Homo sapiens: one gene and its partner. Changing the gene in region 1 together with any one later gene gives a genetic interaction. Each region holds a gene or a part of one and is shown in the gene's direction. Other genes may lie near its edges.

Region 1 (3,500 bases):
GCTGCCAGTTTGTTAGTTTTTTTTTAGTTTTTGAGGTTTTTTAGAGACAGGATCTTGCTCTGTTGCCCAGGAGGGAGTGCAGTTGCAGTGGTACAGTCAAAGTTTAAGTTTACTGCAGCTTTGAACTCCTGGGCTCAATTGATCCTCTTGCCTTAGCCTCCCAAGTAGCTGGGACTACAGGCGCGTGCCACCACACCAGGCTAATTTTTAATTTTTTTGTAGAGATGGGGGACTTGCTATTTTGCCCAGTCTGGTCATGAACTCCTGGCCTCTAGCAGTCCTCTCATCTTGGCCTCCCAGAATCCTGGGATTACAGGTGTGAGCCCTTGTGCCTTGCCCATTGTTCGTTTTTAATTAGATTTTGTGTGAATATCTTTGAAGGGATTTCTAACATTTTTTATATACGTATATATTTTAGAATTTTTATCTTGACACATTGACCTTTACTAGAGGTTCAATTTTTGACTCTTGGCAAGTAGCAAGAATGGAGTTTTATCTTTAAAATTCAAACATAATCTTTACTATAGAAGAAAGAGTTTTAGCAGAGGTTTCTCTGAAATTTACACACAAAAAAAAAAAAAAAAAAAGAAGAAAGAAAACTTTCGGAATTGCCCCTACACAGACTTCTGGTTTTGATACTTATAAACCAGCTTATCTGCTGAGTATATTCTTTGGTTTCATACAATATTTTGTTTTGAGGGAAAGCTAAGGTTCATTGTGCTGTGAGAAGTAGAACTAACGTAAGAAGTTAAAGATTTCTGAGAACGTGCAGACATAATTTAGGGTTGTATTTTTCTGAGTGTTTATGATTTTTGCAGAACCATTGACTGATGACTTTTAACTCTAGCTCACAGAAATCTATCCTAAATTCTGTAACATATGAGAAATTTTCTTTTTTCTTTCATACTCGTTACCTTAGGGAACCAAACAGTTTGTTTGGGGAAGATAATGGAGAGATAAAAAGAGGCCTGGATGCTAGCTTTCTATATTATATTTTTCAGATGTCATAAACAAAGTTTACCAGAGGAAATTTCTTCCTGTCTAAATACAAAGTCTGAAGCTCTGAGAACAAAACCAGATGTCTGCAAAGCAGGGTTGCTCTCAAAGTCCTCTCAGATTGGAACTGGAGACTTGAAAATTCTGACTGAGCCAAAAGGCAGCTGTACTCAGCCTAAGACAAACACTGATCAGGAAAACAGATTGGAGTCTGTTCCACAAGCATTGACTGGCCTTCCTAAGGAGTGCTTACCTACAAAGGCTTCTTCTAAGGCAGAATTGGAAATTGCCAATCCTCCTGAACTGCAGAAGCACCTAGAACATGCACCTTCCCCATCGGATGTTTCAAATGCACCAGAAGTGAAAGCAGGTGTCAATAGTGATAGCCCTAATAACTGTTCAGGAAAAAAGGTAGAACCTTCAGCTTTAGCTTGCCGATCACAGAATTTAAAGGAATCTTCAGTAAAAGTAGATAATGAAAGCTGTTGTTCAAGAAGCAACAATAAAATCCAGAATGGTGAGTGTTTCTCAATATCTTTATTGGTAGAAGGTAAGAAATGGTAGATATATATATCTCTTTCTTGTCCTATGAGAAACTATGTGAAAATGACTTTGTAGAAATAGTTTATACAGTCAGAAAAGTTGAAAGAAGGTATAATTCCCAAATCTCAGAAACGATTACTGTTAATATTTTGGTGTACCTGGTTTCATGTATATAGAAATACAGATAAACTGTATTACACAAATGGGTTCATGCCAATAATTTTACCCTGTGAATTAGTGTAGGTGTCTATTAGTATTTTAAAGCAAGGATTCCATTATGTTCATTTACCATAGGATTTAACTGGTTCCTATTAGGTGGGTAATTAGGTGGTTCCCAATTCTTAGGTTAAGAAAATTTTGAAACAAAATCTAAAGTAATCTGGTGTTTACTTTATTTCAGCTTGTCACTGATCTTTCTGTTACATCCAGGTTGGAGTAGGAAGAGGTGATCTGTGACAGGTAGCTAAGATTTGAAATTTTAGAAAAGATGCAGAATTGTATCATTTCTGGAAAAAGGACTTGGGTTAAAGATGTTACGGATAGGGCTGAACTACCAGGAAGAGTCTCTTTGCTTAAGGGGAGGTCCTGCTGCACCCACAATTTAAAACTACTCTTCTTATGGGGAAATTGGTACGTTGTACTTGATGCTACTTATATGAAGTTTGAGGATGCATTATAATGGTGGTAGTTATCAGAAGCTCTGTTACTAGAGTTAGAAGAACAAAATGTTTTCAGCATGTCAAAAGGTTTAGAGCTATTAGAATTTAAAGATGCCTTTTGATCACTGTTAGCTATGTGGGAAATTGATATGGATTTTGTTAATGTTTTAGGCTGGGCATAGTAGCTAACACCTGTAATCCTAATACTTTGGGAGACCACTGTGGGAGGATTGCTTCAGACCAGGAGTTTGAGACCAGCCTGGGCAACATAGTGAGACCCCATCTCCACAAAAAATTTTTTTAAAAATCAGCCAGGCATGGTGGGGCACACCTGTTATTCCTAGCTACTGGAGAAGCTGAGGCAGGGGGGTTGCTTGACCCCAGGAGTTGGAGGCTGCGGTGAGTTATGATTGTACCACTGTACTCTAGCCTGGGCAACAGAGTGAGAGCTTGGCTCAAAAAACAAACAAACGAAAACAACCTACGAAAACAATTTATTTATTTGGATCAGTAAAAATGAATATATCTACACTATCTTTTTAACTGCAGGCCTCTGTGAAATTAGAGGGCAAGATGGCTGGATTTGACTTGCGAATCTTTTTAGTATAGCATTGGAAGAATAGAAAGAACTTTCTTTGCCTAGCAATACTTCTAACCTAGCTTCTTCATTGAGGCTTAAGTTAATATAGCTGTTAATTTGCATAAAATTAATTGCATAAGATTATCCTGTTCTCAGAAATTAGGTAACACTCAAAAGAAAGTACATATTCATAACCATATCCTTGTTCTATTTGTTGTTTTTGAATCATCAGCTCTCACACACAGCTAGTTTTTGAAGCAAATTTAATATTATGTGACGAAACAGTAAAGATTCTAGTGCAATAAGCACATGATAGATACACAAGTGAGTTACGGAGTCCAGCTTTGTCTCATTTAATATGTTATGTAGCTATTCCCCATCTAATGGATTTTAAAAGAAGTGAAAAACTTACATCCTGGAGTAGCACATCCTGCTATCTACTGTGACTTTTTTTTTTTGGTTGAGGTGTGAGAGTGTGATCAGAAGCCTACCGGGACTTCTGAGCTGTGTCCACTAGTACTGCATGTTAGTACAGAAGGCTTGGAAAACTTTTCTGCTCCTTTCTTCCACTTGGGGTCTAGAAAACAAAAGCAAACTGGAGTCAAACAGCTGCCTTTTTTTCCGTTCAGATAGATACGTGGCTCCTCGGAAGTGGGCGTTGCATTTTTCTCTTGACTTGGCTTTGAATTCAGAGAATCACTGATGGTAGCACCTGTTGCTCT
Region 2 (3,174 bases), on another chromosome or scaffold:
GTAAACAGATTTTGCGCAAAGGAGCAAGGAAGGGTTTCTTGCCTGGCAGTGGTTGACAGTTTTTCTTTTGCCTCATGTAGCTCTTGAAATTGGGGCTGACCTCCCATCTAATCATGTCATTGATCGCTGGCTTGGGGAGCCCATCAAAGCAGCCATTCTCCCCACTAGCATTTTCCTGACCAATAAGAAGGGATTTCCTGTTCTTTCTAAGATGCACCAGAGGCTCATCTTCCGGCTCCTCAAGGTGAGTGGTAGGAGGGTTCTAAAGGTAGTCCAGCTATACATCTTGCCTTATTTACCTGTGTATGATCGTTTTTTCCTGTGAGGCTGACTCTTTTTCTTTGGTTTCTGGGGAGCAATTTCAGTGAAGTTGGGAATCTTGAGAACAAAAAGGTAAATGCCAGTAGTAGCCCTAGAAACCTTTCAAAACAAACCAAACCTCATGAGAACTTTGCAGAAGGTTTCATTTAGGAAGTTACAGCAAGGATCCATGAGGCTGTTTGGGTGTTGATACTTTCATGGCATAAGAGGGCTTTTTCTTTTTTCTTTTTTTTTTTGAGACAGGGTCTCACTCTGTTACCCAGACTGGAGTGCAGCCATACCATCTCAGCTCACCAGAACCTCTGCCTCCCAGGCTTAAGCGATTCTTCTGCTTTAGCCTCCTGAGTAGCTGGGATTATAGGAATGCACCACTACTGCCCGGCTAATTTTTGTATTTTCAGTAGAGACAGGTTTTATCATGTTGGCCAGGCTGGTCTTGAACGCCTGACCTCAAATGATCCACCCGCCTCGGCCTTCCAAAGTATTGGGATTACAGGCGTGGGCCACCACGCCCGGCCAAGGGGGCTTTTTATAAGTTTACTGAAGCCTCATGCTGCCTTTGTTGGTATTGGGACAGACGCTAGAGAACTGTTGGTCTGGGCCAGGTGCAGTGGCTCGCGCCTGTAATCCCAGGACTTTGGGAGGCTGAGGCGGATGGATCATCTGAGGTCAGGAGTTTGAGACCAGCCTGTCCAACATGGTGAAACCCCGTCTCTACTAAAAATACAAAAATTAGCCAAGCATGGTGGCACGCACCTGTAGTCCCAGCTACTTGGGAGGCTGAGGCAGGAGAATTGCTTGAACCTGGGAGGTGGAGGTTGCAAGTGAGCCAAGATCACGCCATTGCACTCCAGCCTGGGCAATAGAGCGAGACTCCATCTTTTTTTTTAAAAAAAAAAAAAAAGAGAACTGTTGATCTGGGCCTTATTTTACACTAGGGCTCTTTGGCCATATACCATAATATTCCAGAATCTTGGTTTGAGGGCTGTGTCTGATGGTCTGACTTTTCTCACAGTTGGAGGTGCAGTTCATCATCACAGGCACCAACCACCACTCAGAGAAGGAGTTCTGCTCCTACCTCCAATACCTGGAATACTTAAGCCAGAACCGTCCTCCACCTAATGCCTATGAACTCTTTGCCAAGGGCTATGAAGACTATCTGCAGTCCCCGCTTCAGGTGGGTCTGGAGTGCACTTAGAGGAGGAAGGTGGGATGGAAAATGTTTCTTGAGAATATATGCCTCCAAATCTTACTAAAACTCAGAAAGCAGTGGAAAGTTTTTGATATTTTAGTGCATTGTCCTTTGCCAGAAACTGGCTAACTTTGTCCTTTTCCTCATTCATCAGCCACTGATGGACAATCTGGAATCTCAGACATATGAAGTGTTTGAAAAGGACCCCATCAAATACTCTCAGTACCAGCAGGTACTGTGTGGTGCCCAGGGTGAGGAAAGCACAGGGCCAGCATGACCTGGGGAGGATGGGATTACAACCATGGGATATTCTCTCCTCCCTCCAGGCCATCTATAAATGTCTGCTAGACCGAGTACCAGAAGAGGAGAAGGATACCAATGTCCAGTGAGTGCTTTCCCCTCAATCTCAGGGACTTGCATACCTATATCTGTATATGCCAAGTCTGCTTGACTCTTCCCTTTCTTTCTTAGGGTACTGATGGTGCTGGGAGCAGGACGGGGACCCCTGGTGAACGCTTCCCTGCGGGCAGCCAAGCAGGCCGACCGGCGGATAAAGCTGTATGCTGTGGAGAAAAACCCAAATGCCGTGGTGACGTGAGTAGCAACCTGCTTGCTGGGAAGTTAGTCCTCATTGCCAAATTTCCTTAACATCTCTCCTTACCTTATTGTCTCTGTTTCAGGCTAGAGAACTGGCAGTTTGAAGAATGGGGAAGCCAAGTGACCGTAGTCTCATCAGACATGAGGGAATGGGTGGCTCCAGAGAAAGCAGACATCATTGTCAGTGAGCTTCTGGGCTCATTTGCTGACAATGAATTGTCGCCTGAGTGCCTGGATGGAGCCCAGCACTTCCTAAAAGGTGCCCCCAGGTTGGGGTGTAGGTGGAGGGTGATGATGGGTGAGACAGCAACCTGGGAGGAGGGTACAGGGTTTAGGGGAAAGTGGGTTGGACCTGGGTCACATCATATGAGTTTGAGAGCCACTGCTTCACTGCCTCTGTGCCCCTAGCAAATGAAGTCATCTCTCCAAACCTTAGTGTTCATATTTGTAAAATGAAGGGAGTGGGCTGGGCGCGGTGGCTCATGCCTGTAATTGCAGCACTTTGGGAGGCCAAGGCGGGAGGTCAGGAGTTTGAGACCAGCCTGGGCAACATGGCGAAACCCCATCACTACTAAAAATACAAAAATTAGCCAGGCGTGGCGGTGCACGCCTGTAATCCCAGCTACTCGGGAGGCTGAGGCGCGAGAATCACTTGAACCTGGGAGGAGAAGGTTGCAGTGAGCTGAGATTGTGCCACTGCACTCCAGCCTGGGCAACAGAGCGAGACTCCATCTCAAATAAATAAATAAATAAATAAATAAATAAATAAATATGACATATGTACCCTGAGCTTAGCTTTCATCAGGAACTTTTGTGGGACTTTGTGACCCCACAAAAGTTAAGAACCACCAGATTAGACTATCTTGGGTTCTTTCAGTTTTAATCTGTGTGACTCTGTAAATTAACCTAGTAGTGGAATCCTCCATGACAGTAGTTGGAAGCAGGCTGGCTTAGTAATGTGACAACATGCATTTGTCTCTTTCTTCCATGCCCATGCCAACGTTGGTTGGTTTTGACATGGGAGGTTTGATCCTTCTGATCCTTCAGTTAGTACAGACATACCA

The links.
Region 2: changes in KDM3A (region 1) and PRMT5 together harm fitness more than expected from each alone (negative genetic interaction), as found in Homo sapiens cells (one large-scale study listed by BioGRID).

The regions. Positions count from the first base shown.
Region 1 is NC_000002.12:86,465,371-86,468,870, forward strand, and holds part of KDM3A (lysine-specific demethylase 3A), read left to right. Parts: intron 1-1,001; coding exon 1,002-1,513; intron 1,514-3,500. UniProt on the Homo sapiens protein: Histone demethylase that specifically demethylates 'Lys-9' of histone H3, thereby playing a central role in histone code.
Region 2 is NC_000014.9:22,923,203-22,926,376, reverse strand, and holds part of PRMT5 (protein arginine N-methyltransferase 5), read left to right. Parts: intron 1-80; coding exon 81-244; intron 245-1,336; coding exon 1,337-1,498; intron 1,499-1,667; coding exon 1,668-1,745; intron 1,746-1,839; coding exon 1,840-1,898; intron 1,899-1,935; exon of another isoform or gene 1,936-1,984; coding exon 1,985-2,107; intron 2,108-2,193; coding exon 2,194-2,369; intron 2,370-2,969; exon of another isoform or gene 2,970-3,174. UniProt on the Homo sapiens protein: Arginine methyltransferase that can both catalyze the formation of omega-N monomethylarginine (MMA) and symmetrical dimethylarginine (sDMA), with a preference for the formation of MMA.